Regions from separate parts of the Homo sapiens genome. Here region 2 is linked to region 1. A link means that fine-mapping ties the variant in region 1 to the expression of a gene that starts in the linked region. Tissue or cell type: whole blood. Region 1 holds a variant in brackets; the other region holds the start of a gene. All regions are shown on one strand. Distances are between the middles of the regions.

Region 1 (5,222 bases):
TAATTTTCGTATTTGTAGTAGAGACATGGTTTCACCATATTGGACAGGCTGGTCTCGAACTCCTGACCTCGTGATCCACCCAAAGTGCTGGGATTACAGGCGTGAGCCACCTCGCCCGGCCTACACAAATTTCTTTTTTTTTTGAGATGGAGTCTCGCTCGGTCGCCCAGGCTGGAGTGCAGTGGCACCATCTCAGCTCACTGCAACCTCCGCCTCCCCAGGTTCAAGCAATTCTCCTGCCTCAGCCTACCGAGTAGCTGGGACTACAGGCGCATGCCACCATGACCAGCTTTTTTGTATTTTTAGTAGAGGTGGGGTTTCACCATGTTAGCCAGGATGGTGTCAATGTCCTGACCTCATGATCTGTCCGCCTCGGCCTCCCAAAGTGCTGGGATTACAGGCGTGAGCCACCACTCCCAGCCCATCTCACATACTTTCATAATCCAAATCCTACTCATTCTTCAAGGTTTATATCAAATGCCATCCTTTCTATGAAATAACCACTGATTTCCTTGCTTACATAAATGTAATAAACTTTCTTCTCTGAACTTCCATATTTATTTTTTCTGTACCTATCTTAAGACATTTACCACTTTAAAATTTAAATAAATATATAAAAGTATATAAAATGAAATACGTGTTTTACTTCAACCATTCTTCCCACCAATAATGTCTCCAGGGGTACAACTACTTTAAAGAGTAAAAATAAGATCCTATTATCCATCTTTCCTCTGCTTGTTATGCTTAATATAGCAATAACACCTATTATCTTCCCATTTTATTAATGAGGAAACTGAGGCACGAGGTAAATTAAATTGCCATAAATCACAGAGCAAGTGTTGGAGCTAGATTTGAACTCAGGCAATTTGGCTTCAAAGCTGTACTGTTAACCATTGCTAGTTCCCACACATGTATTCTTAATGTCTTTATAATATTTTAGTTAAGGTATACACTTCAAAAATTTGTTTGTAATTTAAATCTGTTTTCCTCCTACAGAATAAAAATACCTTATTTATTTTGAACTTCTGTTGTGCCTCTATCACCATATCTTCATTGAATCCTTGCATTAATTTTTCCCGGGAAAAACAGGGCAAATCTTGACAAAGCTTCACAAGCACAAAGTCTCGTAATTTCACATAGCTTTTGGATGGATCTTCCGCTAAATAAATAAAGCAGAATAATATTAACATTTCCCTGATACTCAATATAATTTCTTCATCTTTTGCAATCTCAACATATATGCTAGGCTGCTCAGGAGGCTGAGGCCTGAGAATCGCTTGAGCCTGGGAGGTGGAGGTTCTACCACTGCACTCCAGCCTGGGTGACAGAGCGAGACTCTGTCTAAAAGAAGAAAAGAAAAAAGACATCAAATCAATATAACCTAAGAGTCACTCTTAACTAGATAAGGAAGGGCAAATTAAACCCAAAGTAATAAGAAGCAATAATAATAATAGAGTAGAAATCAATGAAAAAGAAAACAAAAATAGACAAGTTCACATAAACACAAAGTTGGTTCTTTGAAATGATCGATGAATTGACAAACTTTTAGTTAGAATGACTGAAAAAAAAGAGAGAAAACAACATTTACCAAAATCAGGCATGAAAGAAGGGATATTCCTACCAACTTTACAAAAATCACAAGAATTAAAAGGGAATATGCCATGAACTTTATGCCAACAAATGAGACAATTTAGATGAAACAGACAGCTTTTAGAAAGAAATTACCAAAATGACTCAAAAAGTAAATGACTATGTGAACTGACTATAACAGAGACATTTAATTACCAACTAAAAATCTTCCCACAAAGACAAGTCTACAACCAGATGGCTTTACTGGTAAATTCCATGAAACAACCTGAAGAAGACATAACGATGATCCTTCACAAACTATTCTAGAAAATAGAGGAAACAGGCCAGGCACAGTGGCTCACACCTGTAATCCCAGCACTTTGGAAGGCTGAGGCGGGCGGATCACCTGAGGTCAGGAGTTTGAGACCAGCCTGGCCAACATGGTGAAACTCCATCTCTACTAAAAATATAAAAATTAGCCATGAGTGGTGGCGCAGGCCTGTAGTCCCAGCTACTTGGGAGGCTGAGGCAGAAGAATCGCTTGAACCTGGGAGGCAGAGGTTGCAGTGAGCCAAGGTGGTACCACTGCACTCCTGCCTGGGCAACAGAGTGAGACTCCATCTCCATTAAAAAAAAAAAAAAAAGAAAGAAAATAGAGGAAACACTTTCCAACTCATTCTATGAGGCCAGAGTTATGCTGACACTAAGGATCTAAGACAAAAACTACAAATCAATATCCCTCATGAATGTAGATACAAATGTCCTCAACAAATATTAGCAAACCAAATCTGGCAATATATAAAATGAATTACATACCAGAACTAAATGGGATTTATATCAGAAATGCAAAGTTGGTTTAACATCCAAAAAAAATCAATTAATGTAATATACCATGTTAACAAAATAAATGAGAAAAATTCAATACATGCAGAACAAAGCGTTTGACAAAATCCAACATCAATTCATGATAAAAACGCTCAATAATCAACTATCTAGAAATAGAAGGGAACTGCCTCAATTTCATAATTAACACATATGAAAGCTATAGCTAACATCATCCACAATGGTGAAAGACCAAATGCTTTCCCTCTAAAACTGGGAGCAAGGCATAGATGTCTGCTTTCACCATTGCCAGTCACCATTATATTGGAGTTCTCAGCTAAGCAATCGGGTAAGAAAAAGAAAGAAAATGCATCTGACTGCAAAGGAAGAGGTAAAAATGTCTTTATTTACAGACAATGTGATCCTGTATGTGGAAAATTCTAACCAAAAAACTACTGCAACTAATAAACAAGTTCAGTAAG[A/G]GTGCAGGATAGAAGATCAATATATAAAACCCAACTGTATTTCTACATACTAAAACAATCAATGATCCAAAAACAAAATTAAGAAATTAAGAAAATAATCCCATTTCCAACAGCATCAAAAATATTTACAAATGAAGTTAACAAAAGTAGTGCAAAACTTGTATACTGAAAACAACATTGTTGAGAAAAGTTTTAAAAGATCTAACTAAATGGAGATATTTCTTTTTTTTTTTTTCTTTTTCTTTTTTTCTTTTTTTTTTTTTTTTTTTGAGACAGGGTCTCACTCACCCAGGCTGCAGTGCAGTGTACGATCTTGGCTCACGGCAGCCTCAACCTCCTGGGCTCCAGTGATCCTCCCACCTCAGCCTCCTGAGTAGCTGGGCCCACGGGTGCTTGCCACCATGCCTGGCTAAATTTTGTATTTTTGTAGAGATGGGATTTCATCACATTGCCTAGGCTGCTCTCGAACTCCTGGGCTCAAGCGATCCACCTGCTGTGGCCTCCCAATGTGCTGGGATTACAGGTGCAAGCCACCAAGCCTGGCCCAAGACATTTCATATTAATGGATTAGAGCAGTGATCCCCAACCTTTTTGGTACCAGAAGTGCCAAAAATATCTAGCACCAGGGATTTTGTGGGAGGCAATATTTCCCTGGGGATGAGGGGAACAGACAAGGGATGGTTTCCAGATGAAACTGTTCTACCTCAGATCAGTCATCAGGCGTTAGTTAGATTCGACCTACATCCTTCACATGTGCAGTTCACAATAGGGTTTGTGCTCCTATGAGAATCTAATGCCACCACTGATCCGACAGGAGGTAGAGCTCAGGCAGTAATGCTTGTTCACCCATCATTTACCTCCTGCTGTGTGACCCAGTCCTAATAGGCTCTGGACCAGTACCAGTCCGTAGCCCGGGATTTTGAGACTCCTGGATTAGAGGATTCTGAATTGTTAAGATGGGAATTTTCTTCAAATTAATGACAGATTCAATGTAATCCCTCAATCCCTATCAAGACCCAAGAGACTTTTTTTTTTTTTTTTTGCAGAAATTGGTGAGCTTATGCTAAAATTTTTATGGAAATACAAGGGACATTATAAACAAAATAATTTTGAAAAAGAACAAAATTGGAGGACTTTCACTTCTGATTTCAAGACTCATATGTGGTTGAGGTGCTGCTTTGCCAGAGCCTCTGTGCCTAAAGGAAGGAGAAAGGGAGGCCACAAAGGCTAAGCAAGGCAGTACAATATTCCCCAAGCAGATCAACGCACAGCTCCAAGTTGAAAAGCAGAAGGCCAGAGAAGACACAAGAAGAGAGTGGAGAATGGAGGCTGCAAGTGACCCCAAAAAAGAAGAAATCTCTAGCATCAGGCAAGAGATTGCCTGAGAATGAAGATGACTGACTGCCAACAAAAGTACAAAGGCACAGAACAGCTCATTGACATGAAGAACCCCAATTGGATGCCATAGATAACCAGAAAGGTCACACAACTGAATCTGGGCAGGCCAAAGGAGATTTCAAGAAAAGAAGACATTGAGAAGAGAAAGCAAAAGAGCATTACATGAAATTGCATTTAGCTGGGGAGACAGAGCAGGTGATTATCTGGAAATAGCAGGAGAAAGCCAAGAGGAAGAAAGAGAGGAAAGCAAAAGATGATTCATGTTTGTCAGGAAAGTGAATGCAGTCACTCTCCCTGAAGAAGTAAGCATGGACTATATAGGAGCAGATACCAGGAACTGGGCCATGCTGCCAAAACCTCTGCTGTGCCTTGCCCACTCTGTGCTGTCGCCACTGCAGCAGCCCTTTACAGCTAGGAGACCCCACAGCTTGCTGCCTGTGGGGGTTGGGGCAGGGCACCTGCTATAACTTTGTGTGTGCCAGGCCAGGTGCAGCTGCTCACACCTGTGATCCCTTGCTTTGGGAGGCCAAGGCAGGAGGACAGCTGGAGCCCTGGAGTTCAAGACCAGCCTGGGCAACATAGTGAGACCCCATCTCTACAGAAAATACTTTAAAAATTAGCCAAGTATGGTGGCATGTGCCTGTAGTTCCAGCTACTTGGGAGTCTGAGGCAGGAGTTTTGCTTAACCCCAGGAGTTCAAGGCGCAATAAGCTATCACTCCACTGCACTCCAGCCTGGGTGACAGAGCAACACCCTGTCTCAAACACTACCCCTACCTCACCAAAAAACAAAAAAAAAAACAACAAAAACAAACAAACAAAAAAAAAAAACAAAAGAAAAACCCTGGAAAGATGCAGATAGCATTTCATATGTAACCGTTTAAATGTTTTCTTAAAAACTATCTTTAAGAGTTCAGGATTCTGGTCGGGGGCCTGGGAGGAGTGCCTTAGA
Region 2 (5,222 bases), 52 kb after region 1:
TAACATCACTTAGAAATGGCATACATACCTAATTTTAGTTCAATTGCTGTGTTGGTGTTACATTTGTACTCTGCCAGTTTCTTCTCCACTGCACTCTTATATTCTACCAAAAATTTCTCCATAGCACCAAATCCTAAGAGAAAAGGTTTTTAAAAGGTTTAGTTTGGAAGTGACTTAAATTGTCAAACCTGCAATAGGGTTATTATAAGTGGAATAGGGGTATGATTTAAAACATGCTGATAGATCATAAAAGCACAAGTCATTCTCCACATACTCTTAAATAAATGTATTAAGAATGCCAGCTGGGCACGGTGGCTCACGCCTGTAATCCCAGCACTCTGGGAGGCTGAGGTGGGTGGATCACAAGGTCAGGAGTTCGAGGTCAGCCTCGCCAAGATGGTGAAACCCGTCTCTACTAAAAATACAAAAATTAGCCGGGCACGGTGACGGGCGCCTGTAATCCCAGCTACTTGGGAGGCTGAGGCAGGAGAATCTCTTGAACCCAGGAGGCAGAGGGTGCAGTGAGCCGAGATCATGCCACTGCCCTCTAGCCTGGGCGACAGAGCAAGACTCCATCTCAAAAAAAAAAAAAAAAAAAAAGAATGCCTCATTACAAAACAGAAAAAGAAATCACTTTTGAGATACAGGCTTATAAACTAGGAATACTTAATATAAATGAATAAACCTGAAAATTAACATGATAGATTACTAACATTTCTGAACATGTACTAATACAAATTACCTGCTAGGATTTATACCTAAGTCGTCTTTTTCATTATAAGATGTAAAAAGCAAAATGAGAATGTCCTCTGATAATTATGACAGAATTTCATTTTAAGTATTGGAAAAAGTCTACCAGAGTGCTTCAGATAAGGAAATGATAATGCATGGAATGTCTCAAGAAGAATACACAAATATCTGGTAACCATAGTTACCATGGGTAAAGAAAGAAGGAAGAGGAACAGGGGCACAAAGAAAACATCTTTCCACTGTATTAAATATTTAAAAATCATGTATGCCTAAAGTCATAAACTGTGAGCTACTGGCACAATAGTTTTACTACATAGTGGCTACTCAATAATATACATAATAAATAACATTGGAAGATATCACTATCAAGAGAAACTTTCAAGATAACAAATCTCCTGACAAAATGGGCATATGATTAGTAAAAATGGGCTGGGCGCGGTGGCTCACGCCTGTAATTTCAGCACTTTGGGAGGCCGAGGCAGGGGGATCGCGAGGTCGAGACGGATATCATCCTGGCCAACATGGTGAAACCCCATCTCCACTAAAAATACAAAAATTAGCTGGACGTGGTGGCGCGTGACTGTAGTCCTAGCTACTCCGGAGGCTGAGGCAGAATTGCTTGAATCCAGAAGGCAAAGGTTGCCGAGATCGCGCCACTGCACTCCAGCCTGGTGACAGAGCGAGACTCAGTCTCCAAAAAAAAAAAAAATCAGTAAAAATTCAGACAGAAAAAAGCCATAAGCAAAAAATAAAAAGGGGTACAATGATGTGCTATAAACTTCAAAAAGGGGTTAAAACACACACACAGAAAATGGGAAAGACTTGAAGCAGTACAGATTAATAGTCTGGAGTGAGAATTCCTGGATTCTGACTATTTCACACACTTACTGAGCTAGTAAGCTCAGGGAACTAGAGCACATTACTTAACCCCTCTGACCCTAATCTACAGAACCGAGATTACAGAATTTACTTCGAGGAATGTAAGCAACAAAATTTAACCTGTGAAATCATATATTAGCTCAATCTGCACAATTCTATAAGTAGGTATTACATCAACCCCATTTTACATTCAAAAGTTCAGGCTTAGAAAGAGGTTTAGTTGAAGGGCATCCAACTACTAAATGATGGGCCCAAAATTCGAATTTAGATGTAATTCTTAGAGTACGTCCTCCCTCTTCTGTGGTACTTCAAGATCCTACAATCTCCATCTGGTAGAAAAGTCCTTCTTTAAACATCTGTAGAGCTCACACAACAGCTTGTCTATCCCACATATTCATAAAAATGGAATGGTTAATGTAGAGAGACTATGAGGAATGCCCTGTAAAGAGATGATAAAAGCAACAAAGGCCAGCGAAGTGGCTCAATCCTGTCATTCCAACACTTTGGGAAGCTGAGGCGAGAGGATGGCTTGAGGCCAAGAGTTCCAGACCGGCCTGAGGCAATACAGCCAGACTCTGTCTCTAAAAGGTTAAAAAAAATTGTTTTTTTTTAGCCGAATGTTGTGGCGCATGCCTGTAGTCCTAGCTACTCGGGAGGCTGAGGCAAGAGGATCGCTTGAGCCTACGAGGAGTTGGAAGCTGCCCGGAACTATGATCGCTGCACTCCAGCCTGGGCGACAGAGAGACCCTGTCTCAGGAAAAAGAAACTGTCCATAACTTCAAAAGATAAGTAATCGAAAAAAATAATCACACCAAAACAGCCTTAATACACGTACAAAGTAATAGCAATTATACATTATTAAATGTTGTAACTTGAAGGGTCTCTAGAATGTACACAAGAGAATTGTATTATAGTAGTCCAACCCTAAAAGAGAAGGGAGCAGTTCAGGAACAAAGTCTTTCTCAAAGGGCATCTAAATACGATCCTCGGAATACTAAAGTGTGACAGATTAACGAGACGACTACGAAGTCAGTCGAGATCCAAGTGGGAGCGCCAGAGCAGGGCAAGGCAGCAATGCGCTAGCTCAGAAGTTGACTGTAGTGGAAGGTAGACGGAGACCTGGAAGAGGAGGAGGATCTGAGCATTAAAATCAGCTGGCGGGAACAGGACCAGATGTACAAGAGCTGAAGCAAGCAGCAGTGGACAAAAGGAATGGGAAGAGAAACAGGCCCCAAGGCATGTGGCATTTTACGAGCCCAAATCATGACGCTTTTCCCTGGCGTCTTCGGCCCTCGGTAGGGGCCGGATTGCTGGCAGAAGGCGCAGAACCCCAAGCAGTTGGGGGCGGGGGCGCGGACCGCCGCCAACAAGGAGCTGCTGGGCTGAGAGTTCCGCGCTTCCGGTCCCAAGCAGGCCTTCTGGAACCCAGGCTACAGCCCGAAAGTTCTAGGCGGGCATTGTCACCACCGTCTCGGCGTTCTATCCCCGATCTGGCCGCCTCCTCCCCTTGGTAAACTTTTCCCGGTAACTTACCCGCCATTTCCGAGCTACGATCACCCGCGGCTGAGGAAGGACGAATCAACCCGCGCGCTCCCGGGCCGGAAGTGACCGCACAGTCTGACATATTTTCCCCGCCCACTCCCAGCGTGACGTTAGCCAATTAAAGGAGGCGTGTCCAGGAGCCCGGCGGCGGAAGCGCCTCAAGAGGCGGGGCTAACGCCGAGAAGTCTGCGCGGGCCGTTGCCTAGCCACTGCGAATGCCGTCAGCCGCTTTGCAGGCCTGAAGTGGAGAAGGAGGCCGCAAACGGACTTTCGCGGTTGAGATGCTCTCTGGCCCTAGGAAAGTTTCTCTGGGGTTGATTTGATCAATACAGACACTTTACGCCTGTTTTCCATACCCGTCCCTGAGATGTTTTGGAGACTGGCTGAAAATCTTTCCTCTTGGCCTGGACAGTGCATCCAAACACCTGAGCCCTGTGGGCAATTTTACCATTTTACCTAGGTAAAATGTAGAGGTTGAGTTTCAGTTGCGGGAGAAGCTTTCACTTGTTTTCCTCATTTGTTTCTCATTTTGCTGTAAACTTTAACACCTTTTTTCCTTTCTCCCCTGTTTTTAACGTATACAGTATGATATTTAGGTACTCTGCTTTCACTCTGCAGGTTACTAAGAACCGTTTAGCGCGCAAAAATCGTTACCTAGGCCGGGCGCGGTGGCTCACGCCTATAATCCCAGCACTTTGGGAGGCCGAGGCGGGTAGATTGCCTGAGCTCAGGAGTTCGAGACCAGTGTAGCCAACATAGTGAAACCCCGTCTCTACTAAAAATACAAAAATTAGCCAGGCATGGTGGCAGGCGCCTGTAATCCCAGCTACTCGGGAGGCTGAGGCAGGAGAATCGCTTGAACCCTGGAGGCGAAAGTTGCAGTGAGCCGAGATTGCGCCACTACACTCCAGCCTGGGCAACAGAGTGAGACTCCGTCTCAAAAAAAAAAAAAAATTGTTACCTAATAAATACCTCAAGTAGCCTGATGTAGTCTTGCATGCCACATGTCCTAGTGGTTTGAATTACATCACAAGGTGCTACCTGATTTTAGCCATAGGCCTTGTTAGTATTTAGTAGCTGTAGGAACTGCTTTCCCCAGAGGATAAACCACTATTTAGGTATCCACAAATATTCCCACAATGTTGGCTATACACCAGAATTCCTTATCTCAACAAATATTTGTTAACAGGTTTTACAGTGATGCACGCTAAAGCTAAAATGGACCCTTGGGATGATGGTCTAGAACTAACACGCCCTCTCATTTTAGAGATGAGGAAACCAAAGCCCAGAAAAGATAAACTGCCCAAGTTCATTCTCAGTATGCAACCTATGCAGAGTGCAGTTCATCAGATACTCAGCCCAGTATTTATTTGCTCAACTATATAGAGATGGCTTTCCTGAAGATAAAGATCAGAAAAGGTACTGAGAATGCCCAGATCCTTTTTCTTTCTTTTTTTTTTTTTTTTTTTTAGACGGAGTTTCACTCTTGTTGCCCAGGCTGGAGTGCAATGGCACAATCTCAGCTCACCACAGCCTCCGCCTCCCGGGTTCAAGCGATTCTTCTGCCTCAGCCTCCTGAGTCGCTGGGATTACAGGCATGCGCCACCACACCCAGCAATTTTGTATTTTTGTAGAGACGGGGTTTCTCCATGTTGGTTAGGCTGATCTCGAACTCCCAACCTCAGATGATCTGCCCATCTCGGCCTCCAAAAGTGCTGGGATTACAGTCGTGATCCCAAGAAAAGGTTTCAAGATCCTTTTTCTTGAAACCTAATGATACACAAGAAATTACAGTCATAGGCCGGGCGTGGTGGCTCACGCCTGTAATCCCAGCACTTTGTGATGCCGAGGCGGGCGGATCACGAGATCAGGAGATCCAGACCATCCTGACTAACATGGTGAAACCCTGTCTCTACTAAAAATACAAAAAAAGTAGCCGGGCGTGGTAGCGGGTGCCTGCAGTCCCAGCTACTCAGGAGGCTGAGGCAGGAGAATGGCGTGAACCTGGAAGGCGGAGCTTGCAGTGAGCCGAGATCCCGCCACTGCACTCC

The links. PIP is the estimated chance that this variant, and not a neighbour inherited with it, causes the effect.
Region 2: it holds the start of HAT1, and the variant in region 1 is fine-mapped to the expression of HAT1 in whole blood (INTERVAL, PIP above 0.99).

Annotation. Positions count from the first base shown.
Region 1 is chr2:171,972,094-171,977,315 of GRCh38, reverse strand. It overlaps HAT1 (histone acetyltransferase 1), which reads right to left. Exons shown (of 11, transcript NM_003642.4): 9 at 1,008-1,159. It overlaps LOC124905590 (a long non-coding RNA gene), which reads left to right. Exons shown (of 3, transcript XR_007087296.1): 3 at 1-624. It also overlaps the pseudogene LOC100420002. Among named protein-coding and RNA genes, the nearest start is that of METAP1D, 25 kb to the left of the region's middle. The variant A/G (reference allele first, on the strand shown) is at 2,874.
Region 2 is chr2:171,920,448-171,925,669 of GRCh38, reverse strand. It overlaps HAT1 (histone acetyltransferase 1), which reads right to left and starts at 3,209. Exons shown (of 11, transcript NM_003642.4): 1 at 3,163-3,209; 2 at 29-133. The coding sequence starts at 3,169. It overlaps LOC105373740 (a long non-coding RNA gene), which reads left to right and starts at 3,281. Exons shown (of 3, transcript XR_923579.2): 1 at 3,281-3,631; 2 at 4,439-4,590. RefSeq lists enhancers at 2,935-2,984, 3,125-3,773.